Regions from separate parts of the Homo sapiens genome. Here regions 1, 3 and 4 are each linked to region 2. The links come from fine-mapping of genetic effects on gene expression. A gene starts in region 2. Each other region holds a variant in brackets. All regions are shown on one strand. Distances are between the middles of the regions.

What was found. PIP is the estimated chance that this variant, and not a neighbour inherited with it, causes the effect.
Region 1: its variant is fine-mapped to the expression of BLTP3B in whole blood (INTERVAL, PIP above 0.99).
Region 3: its variant is fine-mapped to the expression of BLTP3B in whole blood (TOPMed, PIP above 0.99).
Region 4: its variant is fine-mapped to the expression of BLTP3B in whole blood (INTERVAL, PIP above 0.99).

The regions. Positions count from the first base shown.
Region 1 is chr12:100,070,705-100,075,859 of GRCh38, reverse strand. It overlaps BLTP3B (bridge-like lipid transfer protein family member 3B), which reads left to right. Exons shown (of 21, transcript NM_015054.2): 12 at 3,047-3,188. Among named protein-coding and RNA genes, the nearest start is that of BLTP3B, 70 kb to the left of the region's middle. The variant T/AT (reference allele first, on the strand shown) is at 2,497.
Region 2 is chr12:100,139,912-100,145,066 of GRCh38, reverse strand. BLTP3B (bridge-like lipid transfer protein family member 3B) reads left to right here and starts at 2,193. Exons shown (of 21, transcript NM_015054.2): 1 at 2,193-2,475. The coding sequence starts at 2,432. BLTP3B-DT (BLTP3B divergent transcript) reads right to left here and starts at 2,012. Exons shown (of 2, transcript NR_186018.1): 1 at 1,724-2,012; 2 at 396-527. RefSeq lists silencers at 2,029-2,208, 2,529-2,778 and an enhancer at 1,885-2,648.
Region 3 is chr12:100,115,376-100,120,530 of GRCh38, reverse strand. All of the region lies in intron 1 of BLTP3B (bridge-like lipid transfer protein family member 3B), which reads left to right. Among named protein-coding and RNA genes, the nearest start is that of BLTP3B, 25 kb to the left of the region's middle. The variant G/A (reference allele first, on the strand shown) is at 3,030.
Region 4 is chr12:100,107,656-100,112,810 of GRCh38, reverse strand. BLTP3B (bridge-like lipid transfer protein family member 3B) reads left to right here. Exons shown (of 21, transcript NM_015054.2): 2 at 4,263-4,425. Among named protein-coding and RNA genes, the nearest start is that of BLTP3B, 33 kb to the left of the region's middle. The variant TC/C (reference allele first, on the strand shown) is at 3,043.

The sequences.
Region 1 (5,155 bases), 69 kb after region 2:
CCTCACCAGCATCTGTATTTTGACTTTTTAATAATAGCCATTCTAACTAATGTATCTGAGATGGTATCTCACTGTGGTTTCGATTTACATTTCTCTGATGATTAATGATGATTAGTGTATTGAGCATTGTTTCATATGCTTGTTGGCTGCACATATGTCTTCTTTTGAGAAGTGTGTGTTCATGTCCTTTGCCCACTTTTTAATGGTGTTTGGTTTTTGCTTGTTGACTTTTGTTCAAGTTCCTTATAGATTCTGGATATTAGACCTTTGTCAGATGAATAATTTGTGAGTATTTTCTCCCATTGTGTAGGATGTCTGTTGACTCTGTTGATAGTTTATTTTGCTGTATAGAAGCTCTCCAATGAGGTCTCACTTGTCTATTTTTGTTTTTGTTGTGATTGCCGTTGAGGTCTTAGCCATAAATTCTTTGCTAAAGCCTATGTCCAGAATGGTATTTCCTAGCTTTTCTTCTAGGACTTTTATAGTTTGACTTCTTATATTTAAATATTTGTTCCATCTTGAGTTAATTTTTGTATATAGTAGAAGGTGTAGCCGGGCGTGGTGGCTCACACTTGTAATCCCAGCATTTTGAGAGGCCGAGGTGGGCGGATCACGAGGTCAGGAGTTCGAGACCAGCCTGGCCAACATAGTGAAACCCCATCTCTACTAAAAATACAAAACTTAGCTGGGCGTGGTGGTGCGCGCCTGTAATCCCAGCTACTCAGGAGGCTGAGGCAGGAGAATTGCTTGAACCCGGGAGGCAGAGGTTGCAGTGAGCTGAGATCATGCCATTGCACTCCAGCCTGGGTGACAGAGCTAGACTCCGTCTCAAAAAAAAAAAAAAGGAAGGTGTAGGGGTCCAGTTTCATTCTTCTAAATATGACTAGCCAGTCATCCAGGCACCATTCATTGAATAGGGTGTCCTTTCCCCATTGCTTGTGATTGTTGAATTTGTCAAAGATCAGATAGTTATAGGTGTGCGATTTTATTTCTGGGTTCTCTATTCTGTTCCATTGATCTATGTCTCTGTTTTTGTATCAGTACCATGCCATTTTGGTTCCTTATAGTATAGTTATGTAATGTCTCCAGCTTTGTTCTTTTTTCTTAGAGTTGCTTTGGCTATTCAGGCTTTTGGGTTTCATATGAATTTTTAAATATTTTAAAATTTTTTTCTAATTTTGTGCAAAATGATGTTTGTAGTTTGATAGGAATGACATTGAGTCTGTATATTGTTTTCAGCAGTGTGGACTTTTTTTTTTTTTTTTTGAAACAGAGTCTTGTTCTGTTGCCCAGGCTGGAATACAGTGGTGTTAGCTCACTACAACCTCCGTCTCCCGAGTTCAAGCGATTTTTATGCCTCAGCCTCCCAAGTAACTGGGATTACAGGCGTGTGCCACCACGCCCAGCTGATTTTTGTATTTTTGGTAGAGATGGGGTTTCGCCATGTTGGCCACGCTGGTCTCGAGCTCCTGGCCTCAAATGATCTGCCCGCCTCAGCCTCTCACCGTGCTGGGATTACAGGTGTGAGCCATCATGCCTGGCCCAGTTCTTGTAGAGATCTTTTATCTTTTGGTTAGATGTATTCCTAGGATTTGTTGTTGCTGTTGTTGTTGTTGTTGTTTGGCTTTCAGCTTGAATGTTACTGGTATATAAAAATACTGCTGATTGTTTACATTGATTTTGTATCCTGAAACTTTATTGAAGTTGCTTATCAGTCATGGGAGTCTTTTCGTGGAGTTTAGCATTTTCTAGGTATAGAATCATATTGTCAGCGAAGAGAAATAATTTGACTTCTTTTCCTATTTGGATGCCCTTTCTTTCTTTCTCTTGCCTGATTGCTCTAGCTAGAACTTCCAGTACTATTTTGAGTAGGAGTTGTGAGAGGGGGCATCCTTGTCTTGTTCCATTCCTTAAGGGAAATGATTTCAGCTTTTGCCGCTTCAGAACGATATTAGCTGTGAGTTTGTCATAGATTACTCTTACTGTTTTGAGGTATGTTTCTTTGATTCATAGTTTGTTGAGGGTTTTTATTGTGAAGGGACGTTGGATTTTATCAAAAGCATTTTCTTTGCCTATTGAGATAATCATATGGTTTTTGTTTTTAGTTCTGTTTGTGGTGAATCATATTTATTGATTTGTGTATGAAACATAGTCTTTTTGGAAAATGAATTCGAGCGATCAAACTATTTGACGGAAGTGTTTATAGCTATTATTTTTAAATTAATTTTTTATTGTGGTAAGGTATGACTGAATTTACAATAATAATTATATATATATACACACACATATACATATTTAGGTTTTTGCCATTGAAAGTAATGGCAAAACTGCAATTACTTTTGCACCAACCTAATAATATCGGCTAGGTGCAGTGGCTCACGCCTGTAATCCCAGCACTTTGGGAGGCTGAGGTGGGTGGATTGCTTGAGGTCAGGAGTTTGAGACCAGCCTGGCCAACATGGCGAAACCCCGTCTCTACCAAAAAAAAAAAAAAAA[T/AT]CTGTGTCTGTATCTATATATTATATAATAATTGTCGTTAAGCACATTCACGTTGTTGTGTAACCAGTACCATTATTTGTCTCCAGAATTTTTATTATCTCAAGCAGAAACTGTATATAGCTCTGTTACTTTTCATGGTAATGGAGAGATTATGGTAAAGATTATTTTAAACAGCGTACGGGGAAGCATTCTGGATTTGAGGACTTGGATCTATGTCCTGACTGCCATTTACTTATCTATATTATCTGATAGAATATCGTTATCATTTTTCTGTTGTTTTTAAGGCTCACAATAATAAGTTTGTAAGGAATATTGTACAGTGTTGATTTTGTGATTGATAAGGATCCAAAAAGATTATAGAGTTTTCTGAATAGTTGATGGGTGTTTAAAAATAATTCCATGTGAAGTTAAATATATAATAAAGTTTACACTGGAAATTAACCATTAGCAAAGTTTTGTAAGTAGTTTTAAAAGTACTGTCTGGGTTGCATAAATTATTTGGAAAGGTTTTTATTCAGTGTGATTTCAGTAAACTTATTTATCTTTTCAGGTCTCTACAGCGGAACAATGTCGTTCTTCCCCCAAAAGCATGATTTGCTGCAATAAAAAATCCCTATATCTTCCACAAGAAATGTCAGCTGTCTATATAGAATTCACAGAATATTACTATCCAGATGGAAAGGATTTTCCAAGTAAGAGAGTTTTTAATTATTATTTGTCCATTATTTGAGAAAGTATTTTTTTCTTGTTAATATTTTTGAGTTTTATAAATATGAAAAATAAATAAAACTGTATTGTTCCTTATTTATTATTAGTTTTTTGAGAGCTAGCATCTCACTGTGTTGCCCAGGCTGATCTCAAACTCCTAGGCTCAAGCCATACTCCTGCCTTGGCCTCCCAAAGTGTTGGGATTGCAGGCATGAACCACTGTGCCCAGCCCCTATTGTTCTTTATTCTTATTGTGTATAGTGCATAAGTCTAGTCTAACAGTTTTAGATGTTGTTATTATTTGTTTATGTATCCTTTTCCCTCCCTAGCTTGTAGAATCCTTGATGGCAGGAATCATGAGGTTTTTTCGTTTTTTGTTTTTTGTTTTTTTTTCAAGGCAGAGTCTCGCTCTGTTGCCCAGGCTGGAGTGCAGTGGCACGATCTCGGCTCACTGCAGCCTTGGCCTCCCAGGTTCAAGCGATTCTTGTGCCTCAGCCTCCTGAGTAGCTGGGATTACAGGCATGCACCACCAGGCCCAGCTAATTTTTCTGTGTTTTACTAGAGACAGGGTTTCACCATGTTGGCCAGGCTGATCTTGAACTCCTGACCTCAAGTGATCTGCCCACCTTGGACTCCCATAGTGCTGGGATTATAGGCATGAGCCGCCATGTCCAGCACATCTGGTATTTATGTTCATTTTATTCCAGATATTCAACTTACTTTGTGCTTAATAGCTGTTTGTTAAAGAATCAATGAAAGCTAGGTTATTTGTAGAATAAAGTCATTTGTTTCCCCTTAGTAAAACTCCATTTATATGTCAGCTATATAACTTCATTTATATATTATTGAAAAAGTAACTGAAGTTGTCCTTTTAGCTGTAGAGAATTTTTTTGACTGTTTTAAAATGCCTAAATGTATACTTTGGGCAACTTTTAGCATTTACAATTTTCAGAAATATTGAATTACATGAATTTTTATTTTTAGAAGCTTCTTTGGCTTTCTAACGTTAAAATGATTGTACATTTGTATTCTTTGAATATTAAAACTCTTTAGCTTCCTAACATTAAAATGATTGTACATTTGTATTCTTTGAATATTAAAACTCTCTGCTATTGTCTCAGTTCATCTAGAAATTCCTTTTTTTTTTTTTTTTTTTTTGGAGACATAGTCTTGCTCTGTCACCCAGGCTGGAGTGCGGTGGCGTGATCTTGGCTCACTGGAACCTCTGCCTCCCGGGCCCAAACAATTCTTGTGCCCCAGGCTTCCGAGTAGCTGGGACTACATGTGTGTGCCAACACTCCCGGCTAATTTTTGTGTTTTTGATAGAGATAGGGTTTTGTCATGTTGGCCAGGCTGGTCTCTAACTCCTGGCCTCAAGTGGTCTGCCTACCTCAGCCTCCCGAAGTGCTGGGATTACAGGTGTGAGCCACTGCACCTGGCCCATCTCGGAATTCTTAAACTAAATGTTGCCCTCTTTTCTGTGATACCTTTTTCATCATGCTAGCTGAAAATCATAGTTGAAAATATTTAGATGAAATAGGTTTTGTTATCAGAGGCATAACAAGTTTTATGTCCTTTCTTTAAAAGTAGAACTCCAAAATACTTAGACCTACTTGCCCATTTATTTAATATTGATTTATTAATATATGTTGTTTTTTTTTCTGAGACAGATTCTTGCTCTGTTGCCCAGACTGGCATGCAGTGGTGCGATCTCAGCTCACTGCAACCTCTGCCTACCAGGTTCAAGTGATTCTCCTGAGTAGCTGGGACTACAGGCATGCACCACCACATCTGGCTGATTTTTGTTAATTTTTTTTTTAGTAGAGGTGAGGTTTCTTTTCTCCTTGTTGGCCAAGCTGGTCTTGAGCTCTAGGCCTCAAATGATCTGACCTCCTTGGCTTCCCAAAGTGCTGAGATTACAGGCATGAGCCACCGCACCCACCCTATTAAT
Region 2 (5,155 bases):
GGCCAACATGGTGAAACTCCGTCTCTACTAAAAATACAAAAATTAGCCTGGTAATCCCAGCTACTTGGGAGGCTGAGGCAGGAGAACTGATTGAACCTGGGAGGCGGAGGTCGCAGCGAGCCAAGATCGTGCTGCTGCATTCCAGCCTGAGCGATGGAGTAAGACTGTCTCAAAAATAAAATAAAAATAAAATGAAATGTTGAGTGTAGTCAACTTACACGTCTATCCTTTCCATTCTTCAAAAAGGGCCAGCTTATTGGACTATGTGTAAACTACTTCCCACCCAACTCCCAAGATGTACAACCACACATCTTGCTAATACATCCCTCAGGGGTGGTACAATTTCTTTTCCTGTTTTAGATATCACTAGTGTTAAAAGAAAAACTTCAGCCAAATTAAATTTAAAGGAGTTTAACAATGAACGATTCCTGAGTCTGGCAGCCCCCATAATCACAGCAGATTCAGAGAGACTCCAGCACAGCCACATGCTGGGAGCAGATTTCTGGCCAGCAAAAGGAAAGTGAGGTCTAGAAAATGGAAGTGAGGTACAGAAACAACTGGATTGCTTACAGCTCAGTGTTTGCCTTATTTGAACACAGTCTGAACAGTTGGCTACATCTGGCCAAAACTCAGTGATTGGCACAGGTGTGGGCTATGGTCGGTTTATACCTCTGCTTATTTTCATAAGTTCATGATGTACAGAAAAACCTTTAGGCTGAACTCAATTACGTAAGGAGGCAGTGTTAGGCTAAACTTGACTTAACACTGAGTAATTTTTTTTTTTTTTGAGACAGTCTTGCTCTGTCGCCCAGGCTGGAGTGCAGTGGCTTGATCTCAGCTCACTGCAACATTTGCCTCCCGGGTTCAAGCAATTCTCCTGCCTCAGCCTCCTGAGTAGCTGGGATTACAGGCGCCCGCCACTATGCCCAGCTAATTTTTGTATTTTTTTTTTGTAGACACAGAGTTTCACCATGTTGGTCAGGCTGGTCTTGAACTCCTGACCTCAAGTGATCTGCCTGCCTCGGCCTCCCAAAGTGCTGGGATGACAGAAGTCGTCATTTTAATCTCTGAAAATGTTAGCTCTGTTTGGGATTGGGTGGGGTGGAGGTGTAGAATTGTAACAGTTTTCCCTAGTTCAACAATTTCCTTCCTTCCTTACAGAACTTTTCATATGATATTTACACCTTTAGGTTCAACCTAGTGAAGTGGGTAAGGCTGATGATTAATCTATTTCACAGATGATTAAAATGAAACTAATAGTAAAGAAATTATTTTCCCCAGGATAACACAGCTAGAAAATACCAGAGCCAGGACTTGAATTATACACCTTCTAATTCCTAGGTCCTAGACTACTAGGAACCATTGTCAACCTTTACTTCCCTTAGAATAGCAATAACCAAAGGAAACATTAAATTGCCACATTTAGGTAAGGGAAAGGCAGGACACCTTAACAAAAGAAAAAAAAAAAACACCAAAAACAAAAACCTAAGGAAGAATATGAAGAAAGGTGAGTAGGTCAAGAGAGCAAAGCAAGCACAGGAGTTAATGGCCGATTCTTAAAACATTCTAAGGAGGCCGGGTGCAGTGGCTCACGCCTGTAATGTCAGCACTTTGGGAGGCTAGGAGGGTGGATCACGAGGTGAGAAGTTCGAGACCTACTGGCCAATATGGTGAAACCTCGTCTCTAATAATACAAAAATTAGCCGGCCGTGGTGGTGCGCACCTGTAATCCCAGCTACTCAGGAGGCTGAAGCAGGAGAATCGCTTGAACCCTGGAGGTGGAGGTTGCAATGAGCCGAGATCGTACCACTGGACTCCAGCCTGTGTGACAGAGCAAGACTTGTCTCAAAAAAAAAAACAAACAAGCAAAAAAATAAAAAACATTCTGAGGAAATGAATAAGGGAAGTAGGACGTGGAAGTAAAAATCAGCGACGGGTCAGCGATGGAGGCGGGAACACCAGCAGAGGGAAGGAGGGAGGATTAAGGCCAAGAAGGATGGTGTATTGAGAGTCAAGGGCCCTGTGTCGCGAGGGCTAAGAACCCTGGCGCCAATGCCACAAACCTCCCGCCCCCGCCCAGAGCCCAGCCAGAGCCCAGCCAGAGCCCGCCCAGAGCCCGCCCAGAGCCGGCGTTGGCCCCGCCCCGCCTCGTGCCGGCCCCGCCTGGAGCCGCCCCGCCCCCGCCCTCCACCGAGTCTCTTAGGTGATGCTGCAGCCAAGATGGCGCCCGCGGCGGCCGTGGCGGCCTGAGCGTGATGCTCCGGGTTCTCGGCGGCGGCTGTGGCCTTGGCCGGGGCCTTGGGTCTCTCCCGGTCGTGAGCGATCAGCGCCTCTCCGCCGGCCGGGCTAGCCGGGACAGAGAGGAGACGGCCACGAAGAGAGGAGGCAGTGAGCAACAGGACGAGACCGCGGCGTCTCCAGCCTCGGTACCATGGCCGGGATCATCAAGAAACAAATCTTGAAGCACCTCTCCAGGTCAGTGAGCGCCTCGGTGTCGGCGCCAGTCGGCCTCCACCCCAGCCCGCACTGGAGTCAGCCTGCGGCTTCGGGGGCGGCGGCGCCTGGCGGCTGTGCGGGAGGCGACCTTCGGACTTCCCCGCTCTGGCCGGGGCAGAGGTCGCGGCCCCGGATCTCTTGTCGCCGGCGGCGCCGGGGGCTGGCCTCACGAATCGGCCCCTGACGCGTCTTCTCCCAGGGTGGGCGCGCGGAGGAGCCCGGAGTGCGGAGCGCGGCGGGCTGGGATCGCTCCCGGCGCGGCGTCTGGGGGCGTCCCGGCTCGGCTCTGTGCGGTACTGAGCGGAGGCTGGAGGTGGCCTGGCGTCACCCAAGTGCCTGGTTAATGTGCTGGGCTCTAACTCGAGTTCGGTGCTCCTTCCCCTTGGAGCAGAGCGGTTCCGTTAACCGAGGGCTTCTGGCGCAGTGTGGACGCTCAGTGGAGGCTGTGTTCTCAGTGGAACGTTAACCTTGTGATTGTTCTGAATTCCTCCCACCTTGGCGTTCCCGCTCTGTGGCATCAGAGGGTGTGCCTGTTTGCACAGTTAGGATTTGTTTTAGGTAAATAAGCAGAGTTCGCAGCTTTGGCAGGTTCTTTCTGGAGTCCTATGAGACCCACATCATTATTACTGAACATTTTTTTTTTTTGGTTTTTGCTCTTTTTCCTCTGCAACTCTAAAATTCAGGGAGTTAACATCTGTGGTGATTAAACCCAAGACATGTCATTCTCTCCATTTCATAACGCGGTTTTAGTCAGAAACATGACTCAGTAAGGCTGGCAGTTTGTTACTGCTCTTGGCTTCTCCGTGTTTGTCTCAAGACACAGGCTAAATGTAGGCTCTTGTTCCAAGTTGTTACCAGCGAACTCAAAGCCCTTGGTTAGGATCCCTTTCTGTTCGATTTGTAAGTTAATTTTAACTAATTTTGGGAAGACACGGGTATGATTATAGACTTGTATAGTAAACATAATTCTTGATTCCCCAGATTGTCTTATACCACAGGTTATATATTGGGAACAGAATTCTACTTCTGTGATTCAGCAAATATTTTCCTCACTTATAATACTGAATAAGATATAGCACTTTTCTTAAAAGTAGCAAAGTATAGCAGCGTGTGTGTGTGTGTGTACATATATATACATATGTACATATATACATATACATATATACACATATATACACATACATATATATGTGTACTACATATATATGTGTATACACTACACATATATATGTGTATATATGTAGTATTTTTTTAGTAGAGACTGGGTTTCACCAGGCCAGGCTGGTCTTGAACTCCCAACCTCAGGTGATCCGCGGTCCTCGGCCTCCCAGAGTGCTGGGATTACAGGTGTGAGCCCCCACGCCCTGCATGAATATGTATTTCTTAATGTTATCACTCATTGAAAAGTTTCTTTTAAAATTATATATATGGCCCAATCTTGAACTATCTTATTTTGGAAGGTTTTATCTATTTTTAATTTATGTCCTCCCGCCTTTCTCATACCCAGCTCCACAAGAAAATACAGATCTGCAGAAAATGATTTGAATGCCTACTTTCTCACTCGTCCAAGGATGATGCTGCATAGCTAGTACCACTCTAGATGCTTGGAAGAAAAGTTAATTCAATCAACAGATAGTGCATTAGAGTTTAATTCTTTTATAGAACTCCATTTGAGAGGGGCTCTTAAAAATTAAGAGCATGCATACCAAAGTATAATAAAAAAAATTAAGAACAAAGATGTAATGGCTTACTGCATGAGATAGAAAACACCCATATATTGAAAATTGAGTCTTTAGGGCTAGTTTTTATTTTATTTTATATATATATATATATATATATATTTTTTTTTTTTTTTTTTTTTTTTTTGAGACAGAGTCTCACTCTGTTTCCCAGACTGGAGTGCAATGGCATGATCTCGGCTCACGGCAGCCTCTGCCTCCTGGCTTCAATCAGTTCTCCTGCCTCAGCCTCCCGAGTAGCTGGGATTACAGGCATGCGCCACCACGCCTGGCTAATTTTGTATTTTTAGTAGAGACAGGGTTTTTCCATGGTGGTTAGGCTGGTCTCAAACTCCCAACCTCAGGTGATCCGCCTGCCTTGGCCTCCCAAAGTGCTGGGATTACAGGTGTGAGCCACCGTGCCTGGCCCTTAGGGTTAGTTTCTAAATCTGTATGATTTGTAATAGCTGTGTGATAAATAGTGTGATGAGGATTTTTTTTTTTTTCAGAGATGAGTTTTTGGGACACTTGAGTTTTCAGTTATTTCATATTTCAAAACATCCTTAACTCAGGTGACTAAAGAGTATCAAATTTTTATTTTTGGTTAATAAGTTAATCTTACTGCTAATTGCTGTCATCTCCTAAGAAAAATAGTTATTCAGAAATCTAAAGGCAGCTCGTAATTGACAAAAGAAGGCAGGTGTTGTGATAAATTATAGTTACTCAGGAAGGAATGAACTTTTGAAATTACCTGGTTCAAGTTTAATTTTATAGAATATCCAGTAATGAAGATGTCACTACATTGACCTAGTGGTCTGGGATACAGTAGAATATAGTTTACCAGGAAATAGTTGAACATACTAGTTTCTAATACTAGACATCATGTGAGGCCTGTGTATGCAACCCATTGCACCTTCTCAAAGGTGACCTTTCCTGACCAC
Region 3 (5,155 bases), 25 kb after region 2:
GTAGTGGTATCTTACTGTGGTTTTTAATTTGCAGTTTTCTAATGACTAATGTTGGGCATCTTTTCAAGTGCCTATCTGCCATCTGTGTCTTCTTTGGTTCCAAGGTCCCTTTAAATCTTTTGCCTATTTTATTTTTTATTTTTATTTTTTTCTTTTTTGAGATGGAATCTTGCTCTGTCACCCAGGTTGGAGTGCAGTGGTGCGATCTTGGCTCACTGAAACCTCCACCTCCTAGGTTCAAGCAATTCTGCCTCAGCCTCCCGAGTAGCTGGGATTACAGGCGCCTGTCTCACGCTCAGCTAATTTTTGTATTTTTAGTAGAAATGAGGTTTTGCCATTTTGGCCATGCTGGTCTCAAACTCCTTATCTCAGGTGATCCGCCCGCCTAGGCCTCCCGAAGTGCTGGGATTACAGGCGTGAGGCACCACGCCCAGGCCTTTTGCCTGTTAGTGAATTGTCTTACTTTCAAGTTGTAAGAATTTAAAAAAAATTGTAGGTACAAGTCTTTTTTCAAATATATGCTTTGGAAATATTTTTTCCCAGTCTATGGTTGCCCTGTAGTTACAGTGTCTTTCAAAGGGCAGAGGTTTTAATTTTGATCCACTAACTTATTTTTTTCTCCTATGATTTGTGCATTTTTTGTTGCGTTAAATCTACCAAACTCAAGGTTACTAATATTTTCTTCAGGAGTTTTTAAGTTGTAGTTCTTAGATTTAGGTCTGTGATAATTTAGAGTTAATTTTTGTTTATGGGGTGAGGTAAAGGTCAAGGATTTTTTTGTTTTTTGTTTTTTTTGCATATGGCTGTAACATCATTCTGGTACCACTTCTTAAAAATATTATTTTCATTGACTTGTTTTTGCACCTTTGTTGGAAATTAGCTAACCATGAATTTGGGTCTTTTTCTGGACTCTGTATTTTGTTGCATTTATTATTTATTTACACCCACCATTATCAGACTGCCTCGATTACTGTAGCTTTTAGATAAGTCTTGAAATTGGCAGTATAATGTTTCCAACTTTGTTCATCTTTTTCAGAGTTATTTTGGATATTCTAGGTCTTCTACATTTTCATGAAAATTTTAGAATCAGTATGTCATTTCTCTCAAAAAAGAAGCCTGCTTGGGTTTTGCTTAGGGTTGCCTTGAATCTGTAAGTCTTTTTGAGAGAATTGATGACATTTTAACAGTATTGAGTTTAATCCACTAATATGTTTTATTTCTTCATTTATTTAGATCTTCTTCAATTTCTTGCAACAGTATTTTGTAGTTTTCAGTTTCTAGGTCTTGCACACCTTTTGACAAATTTATCCCTAAAAATTTCATATTTCTTATGCTAATGTTAATGGTAGTTTAAAATATTCAGTTTCTGATTGTTGCTACATATAGAAACATAATTTATTTATTTATTTTTTTATTTTATTTCATTTTTGAGACAGAGTCTGGCTCTGTCGCCCAGGCTGGAGTGCAGTGGCGCGATCTCGGCTCACTGCAACCTCCGCCTCCTGAGTTCAAGCAATTCTCCTGCCTCAGCCTCCCGAGTAGCTGGGACTACAGGTGCATGCCACTAAGCCCAGCTAATTTTTGTATTTTTAGTAAAGACAGAGTTTTACCATGTTGGCCAGGCTGGTCTTTGAACTCCTGACGTTGTGATCTGCTCGCCTTGGCCTCCCACAGTGCTGGAGTTACAGGCATGAACCGCAACACCCAGCTGATTTCTTTATTATAATTTTTATTGAGTGAAATTTACATACAATAAAATGAATAAACTTTCCATAATCAGCTCTGATTTTTTAAAAATAAGCTTTTAATCTTAGAATAGTTATGGATTTATAGAAAGGTTGTGAAGATAATGCAGAATTCTCATACCCAACATTTAGTCTCTCTTACTATTAGCATTTTACATTCATATGGTTCATCACAATTAACTAATGTTGATAATTATTATAGGCCATACTCTGTTCAAATTTCCTTAGTATTTCTTTTACCCAATGTCCTTTTTCTATTCCATGGTCCCATTCCAAATATATTACATTTAGTCATCATGTCTTTTTAGGCTCCTCTTGGTTGTGCCCATTTCTCAGACGTTCCTTGTTTTTGAAGACCTTGAGAGTTTTTTGTTTTGTTTTGTTTTGTTTTGTTTTGAGACGGTCTCACTCACTCTCCCAGACTGGAGTGCAGTAGTGTGATTATGACTCACTGCAGCCTCAACCTCCTGGGCTTAAGCAGTCCTCCTGCCTCAGCCTCCTGAGTAGCTAGAACTACAGGCATGCACCACTACACCTGGCTAATATTTTATTTTTTTGGAGAGGCATAAGCCACCGTGCCCAGCCAACCTTGAAAGTTTTGAGGAGACCTGGCCACGTGTTTTGTACAGTGTCCTTCAATTGGGGTTTGTCTGCTGTTTTCCTTTAAAAAAAATACAAAAATTTATATAAAATTACTCATTTTTTTTTCTGGGACCAAGAGAAATGCCAATTTCAACTGTGTCAAGATATCTTTGGTTGCTCTATAAAATCGATACACATAAGTCCAGGATTGATAAGAGTAGTATAAAAAAGGCATTCTTTGTATCTCCTCCACGATAAATCTGTGATTTTAAATCTGATGCATATAAATGAGTCCCCCAGATAACTTCCTAAAATGGAGATTTCTAGGCCCTGCTCCATATCAAGAGCACCAGAATCTCTGGGAATGGGCTTGAAATGGAGTAGTTTTAAAAAGCACCCCAAAGGTCAGGTGCGGTGGCTCATGCCTGTAATCCCAGCACTTTGGGAGGCCACAGCAGGAGGATTGCTTGAGCCCAGGAGTTTGAGACCAGCCTGGGCAACACAGCGAGACCCCATCTCTACAAAAAAATTAAAAATGAGCTGGACGTGGTGGTGCTGGGCATGTTGAGGAGGTCAAGGTGGAGGCAGGGGAGGTGGAGGCAGGGGAGGATCTTAGGAGGTCGAGGCAGGGGAGGATCACTTGAGCCCAGGAGTTCAAGGCTGCAGTGAGCTGTGATCACACCACTGCCCTCCAGCCTGGGC[G/A]ACAGAACGAGACTGCCTCAAAATAAATAAATAAAAAGTTCTGCAGGTAATTCTGAAGTCACTAGTGTATGTCTACCCTTTTTCTTAGGATTAGATTGGCATTAGGGGTTTTTGGCAAGGAGACCACAGAGGTTAGTTAAGAGCTCTTTTTATTATGTCAAATCAGGGGTACATATTATCAACATGTCTTATTGCCGATGTTGACGTTGATAACCTGGCTGATGTAGCATTTGCCAAGTTCTCCACTGTAAAGTTATTCTTTTCCCCATTTTCTTACTGAACATTTTGGAAGGAAGTACTATGTGCAGCCCTCACTAAAAGAATGAGGAGTTATGCTCCACCTCCCTGAGACTAGAATATCTATGTAATTTTTTTGGAACTTTTCTGCCAGGAAGATTTCTCTATTTTCTCCAAGTTATTTATTTATTTAATCATATGTTTATATTAGTGTAGACTTCTGTATTTTTGTTTTATAGTTTGTGTTATTATCCAGTACTGTTTTATTTATTTTGTTGCTCAGATTCTTTCAGCTTTGGCTATTGGTAATTCTTTCTTACGGCTCCTCTGTCCCTTCAACTGATTTATTTTTATATTGGCCTTATATCCTGCAACATTGCTACACTCATTTTTTAGTTCTGGCAATGTCTTTAATAATTCTGTATGATTTTCTACACAGGTGATCATGTCATCTGGGAAAAAATAATTTTACTACTTTTCAAAACCAGATGCCTTTTATATATTTTTCTTACCTTATTGTGTTGGCTAGAACCTTCAATACATTGTTGGAAAAAAGTGATGAGAGCAAACACCCTTGCCTTGTCCCTGTCTTAGGGGAAAAGCAATTTTAGTCTTTTCTCATTACACGTAATTTTAGCTGTAGAGTTTTTGTAGATGTCCTTTAGAGTTTTGGGGAAGTTCTCTTCTGTTCCTGTCTTGTTGAGAGTTATTTTTTCATGAATGGGTGTTGACTTTTGTAAAATGCTTTTTTGGGCTCTATTGAGAACATGATGTAATTTTACCTTTTTTTTTCTTTTCTTTTTTTTTTTTTTTTTTGAGACAGGATCTTGCTCTGTTGCCCAGGCTGGAGTGTGGTGGTATGATCTAGGCACCAACTCCACCTCCTGGGCTCAAATAGTCCTCTCACCTCAGCCTTCTGAGTAACTTGGACTACGGGCCCCTGCCACTATGCTTAGCTAACTTTTAATTTTTTGTACAGATGAGGTCTCACTACTTCTGGGCTCAAGCCATCCTCCCACGTCAGCTTCCCAAAGTGTCAGGATTACAGCCGTGAGCCACTGTGTCTGGCTAGATTTTACTTTTTTTTTTTTTTTTGAGACAGTCTCATTCTGTCACCCGGGCTGGAGTACATTGGCACCATCTCGGCTCACTGCAACCTCTGCCTCCTGGGTTCGAGTGATTCCCCTGCCTCAGCCTCCTGAGTAACTGGGATTGCAGGTGTGCACCACCACACCCAGCTAACTTTTTTTGTATTTTTAGTAGAGATGGGATTTCATCATGTTGGCCAGGCTGGTCTTGAACTCCTGACCTTAGGTGATCCGCCTGCCTTAAAGTGCTGGGATTACAGGCGTGAGCCACCTCGCCTGGCCTAGATTTTACTTTTAATGTGGTGAATTGCATTAGTTGGTTTTTGGTTTTAAACCAGCCCTCATTTCTAGAATAAACACTTGGTCAAGATGTATTATACTTGTGTGTTTTTTTTGTTTTTTTGTTTTTTTTTCCCAGACAGGATCTCACTCTGTCACCAAGGCTGGAGTACAGTGGCACGATCACAGCTCTGCAGCCTCAATCTCCCGGGCTTGAGGGATCTTCCTACCTCAGTCTCCCAGGTAGCTACAGGCGTGTGCCACCGTGCCTAGCTAATTTAAAAATTTTTTGTAGAGACAAGGTCTCACTATGTTGCCCAGGCTTGCCTGAAACTCCTGAGCTAAAGTGATCCACCTGGCTTTGGCCTCCCGAATTGCTGGGATTCCAAGTGTGAGCCACGACGCCCGGCCTATACTTACTTATTGTTTTAAACTTTAGTTCATACCTTGGCTTGTGAAATCATTTTAGTTATGATCACTATTTTATTTTTTGAGACAGAGTTTCACCCTGTCGCCTAGGCT
Region 4 (5,155 bases), 32 kb after region 2:
TCGGCTCACTGCCACCTCCGCCTCCCGGGTTCAGGCAATTCTCCTGCCTCAGCCTCCTGAGATTCTTGGCTTTTTGTGCATTTATTCTCTGTTCCCTTAACCAAATTATAAATCTTTGATTATATGGACCTTTTTGTTTTGTTTTGTTTTGCCCTTAAATGTTTACTTAGTGCAGTGCACATAATTTAGACCCTAATAATGGTGTATTGATTGTAAAATGTATAATCTAAATCAAGTCTACTTTTTTCATTTGCTTGGAAATTTTATTGCTGTTGTTAGCTATTATTTTTGTTTTTTGTTTTGTCTTTGAGACAAAGGCTCTGTCACCCAGGCTGGAGTGCAGTGGCAAAATTATGGATCACTGCAGCCTTGACCTCCCAGGCTCAAGCAATCCTCCCAGCTCAGTCCCCTCAGTAACTGGGACTACAGGAGTGTTCCACTATGCCTGGCTAATTCTTTTTTAAATTTTTTGTAGACATAGGGTCTCACTAATATAGTCACTCACTAATATATAGACCAGCCCAGGCTGGTCTCAAACTCTTGGGCTCAAGTGATCTTCTTGCCTTGGCCTCTCAAACTGCTGAGATTTCAAGCATGAGCCACTGCTCCTGGCTAAATTACATATATTTTAATCCTCCTCATTTTTCACTTTTGCTCTTGCCAGGCCAGGCTTTTTTGGTTTCCCTTGAACTTTTGTCTTTATAAAAGTGGTACATGCTCGTTATAGAATACTTATACAGAGAAGTATAAATAAGGAGAAGTAAATCTAGGCTGGGTGTGGTGGTTCACACCTGTAATCCCAGCACTTTGGGAGGCTGAGGCAGGAGGATTGCTTGACCCCAGGGATTCGATATCAGCCTGAGCAACATAGTGAGTCCCTGTCTTTAAAAAATAACTAGCTGGGGCTGGGCACGGTGGCTCATGCCTGTAATCCCAGCCAGCACTTTGGGAGGCCGAGGTGGATGGATCACAAGGTCGGGAGTTAGAGACCAGCCTGACCAACATGGTGAAACCCCGTCTCTACTAAAAATACAAAAATTAGCTGGGCGTGGTGGTGCGTGCCTGTCATCCCAGCTTCTCAGGAGGTTGAGGCAGGAGAATCGCTTGAACCCAGAAGGCAGAGGTTGCAATGAGCTGAGATTGTGCCACTGCACTCCATCCTGGGTGACAGAGCAAGACTGTCTCAAAACAAAACAAAACAAACAAACAAAAAAAAACAAAAAACTAGCTGAGCATGGTGGCATGTGCCCATGGTCCCAACTGCTTTGGAGGTGGAGGTTGCAGTGAGCCAAAATCAAACCACTGCACTCTAGCCTGGGCAACAGGGTGAGACCCTGTCTCAAAGTAAATTAAATAAATAAACTAATTAGCTGGGTGTGGTGGTCCCAGCTACTTGGAAAGCTGAGGTGGGATCACCTGAGTCCAGGCGGTCGTGGTTGAAATGAGCCATGATCACACCACTGCACTCCACCCTGGACAACAGAGCGAGACCGTGTCTCAAAAAAGCAAAAAAAAAAAAAAAAAAAAAAAAAATCTAAAACCCCACCAGCCATAGGTAGTCATGGGATTTTATGATGCATTTTTTACATACTTGAAATTATAGCACATAATTTTGTGACTTGAATTTTCATCAAACATTATAATATAAACATTTCTTTATAAGACTGGCAACATATATTACTTGATATGTATGTATTAATAATATAGTGTATTATAATTAGATGGGGTATCCCTCTTGGGACGTTTAGATTGTTTTCACTCTTTTTTTCTTGTAGATATCCTTGAAATGAACATTCTTGTACATACCCAATCAAGGTGTTGCCTGATTTCTTCACTAACCATGCTTCACCTCCATCCCCATATTCCTCCATGCCCAAGACTAAGGATATATAGTCAAATGTTAGAATATATAGTCAAATATTCTGTTTGAGTTACTCAGATTAGTCTGTTGTCCATCCTTCCTTCCCTATAAATATTACAGATAACAGTATTTCTGATATTTTTTCAATTCCACTTTATATCATCTCCCTCCTGTCTTAGAACCTTTATGCATTTTATTCCTCTGCTTGGAATACTTTCTTTCCCTACCCCCTTTTCCTCCTTGCCTAGTTAACTTCTCTTCCTTTAGATACCAGCTCAAAAGTCCCTGTTTCAGAGAAGCTCTGGATTAGAACTCCTGCTATATTCTCTCTTAGTTGTGCCATTTGATCCGTCTCACCAACTAAACTGAAAACTCCACAAGGGCAGGGACCTCAAGTGTACTGCTTCCCAGTATGTGTGTCTGCATAATGAATTCTCAATAAATACTTATTGAGTGTTGTCTTCTGGCTCTAATATTCTGCCTCAGGGAAGTGGCAGGGTTTTTTGTTTGTTATCTATGGTTAGGAATGGCATTCTATGAGAAAGCGTCGTGGTATTGAATCAAGCGTGATCAGAAGCAAGTGTAATACAGCTCAGCATCATTGGTCAAATACATGTGTTAAATGATTGTTGTATTTCTCAGTTGACATCCTGTGAGAAGATATGAATTCAGATAGAATCTGGCTCAAATTCTGGTTTGGAGTCAGTGGAGAAACATGAGTTTATTGATTGGTATTCTTGTTGACAAGTAGGGCATGTGAATAACCCAGTATATAATGTTGCTTTATATTTAATTTCCAAAAAAAGTAAAGACTAACTCTTGTTAGCCAGTAGTTTAGTTTTTTTCAGTAATTTCACTTTTGAAAAATTATTTGTTGGGCATAGTTAGTAATTTTTATTTTTTAGGGTTGTTTGGAAGATAAAGTAATGTATATGAATGTATTTCAAAGTAGATGTGTAATGTATTTTCATTGTTAGTTGTGATATTAGGCAAGTAAGTTCAAGTTTCTCCTTAGGTTTACTTATTCAAAAATTGGGTTAAAATTAGTATAGACCCTAATAGGTTATCATGGGAACTAAATGAAATAGTCACGCATGTATGCCAAGAGCTTGGAACACAGTAAACCCTTGGAAAATGCTCACTCTTACATTAACTATTTCCAATCTTTTTTTTTTTTTTTT[TC/C]TGAGACAGGGTCTCACTGTGTCACCCAGGCTGGAGTGCAGTGGCACAATCTCAGCTCACTGCATTCTCCACCTCCTGGACTGAAGCGAAACTCCCACCTCAGCCTCCTGAATAGCTGGGACTACAGGCATGCGCCAACATGCCCAGCTAATATTTTTGTATTTTTAGTAGAGACCAGGTTTCACCATGTTGGCCAGGCTGGTCTTGAACTCCTGCCCTCAAGTGATCCGCCCTCCTCAGACTCCTAAAATGCTGGGATTATAGGTGTGAGCCACGCACCTGGCTGCCTTTATCATTTCTTTGTGTTACAGACATTCCAGTTACACAATTACTTTAAAACGTACAATAAATTATTGTTGACTGTAGTCACTTTGTTGTGCTGTTGAATACTATATCTGTCTTAGTCCGTTTTTATACTGCTATGAAGACATACCTGAGACTGAAGAAAGAAGTTTAATTGGCTTACACTTCTGCATGGCTGGGGAGGCCTCAGGAAACTCACAATCATGGTGGAAGGTGATGGTGAAGCAAGGCATGTTTTACATGGTGGCAGGAGAGAGAGAGAGAGAGAGAGAGAGAGAGAGAGAGAGAGAGAGAGAGAGAGAGAGGAAAACTGCCAGACACTTTTAAATCATCAGATCTTGTGAGAACTCACTCCCTAACTATCATGAGAAACTACCCCCATGATCCAGTCACCTCCCACCAGCTCCTTCCCCTGACATGTGGGGATTACAATTAGAGGTGAGATTTGGGTGGGGACACAGAACCAAACCATATCAGTATTGTATTCATTCTACCTAATTGTATTTTTGTACCCACTACCCATTCCCACCCCTGCTCCCCACCACTACCCTTTCCAGCCTCTGGTGACCATCATTTCTACTCTTGATCTCCATGTATTCAATTGTTTTAATTTTTAGCTCCCACAAATGAACGAGAGTGTGTAAAGTTTGTCTTTCTGTGCCTGGTTTGTTTCACTTAACTGTAGTGTCCTCCAGTTCCATCCATGTTGTTGCAAATGACAGGATCTCATTCTTTTTTATGGCTGAATAATACTCCATCGTGTATATGTACCACATTTTCTTTATCCATTTGTCGTTGATGGACATTATGTTGTGTCCACTCCTATTATATTTTTAGTTCTCTGTATATTTGAAAAAATGACTCTGGAGTATAGTAACTGACACATAAATAAATGTCAATGTGTATTCTCTTTCAGATTTACCAAAAATTTATCTCCTGACAAGATAAATCTAAGTACCCTTAAAGGAGAAGGTGAACTGAAGAATTTGGAGTTGGATGAAGAAGTACTCCAGAATATGTTGGATTTGCCAACATGGCTTGCTATCAACAAAGTTTTTTGTAATAAAGCGTCCATTAGGGTGAGACTTTGATATCTGTGGCTTGATATTTGTGGAAGGCCTTTCATGTTTTCCTTCTATATTTTGGCTCTAGCTTTTAAAATACTTAATTTTAGATAATTGTGTAAAAACATTTTTATTAATATAATTTCAAAAGAAAGATACCTTTGCATAAATGTGTGCCTTATGTGTAAAGGCATATATTAACTACTTTATAGATCTTAATTTTTGTGTAAAGTGATTCCATTAATATTTCAAAATTATTAATTTGTTAATAAAATAATTGCATCCATTTGGTACATGTTCAAAGATAGTTTTTTCATAAGTTTTATTGTCAAATGGGACAATCTAAACTTGTAGTGAGTTGCTGGGCATGGTGGCTCACACCTGTAATCCCAGCACTTTGGAAGGCCGAGGTAGGCGGATTGCTTGAGCCCAGGAGTTTGAGACTAGCCTGGGTAACATAATGAGACTGCATCTATACTAAAAATAAAAATAAAAAAATAGCCCAACATGGTAGCACATGCGCCTGTAGGCCCAGCTACTTGGGAAGCTGAAGCAGGATGATCGGTTGAGTCTGGAAGGGTGAGGCTGCAGTGAGTCATGATTGTGCCACTGCACTCCAGCCTGGGTGACGGAGTGAGACCCTGTCTCAAAACAATTTTTAAAAAGTAGTGAGTAAATACTTTTCAAATGAAGACATGAGAACTAATAAATTTGCAGTTTTATCCCTTTTCTTCATTAGTTTCTT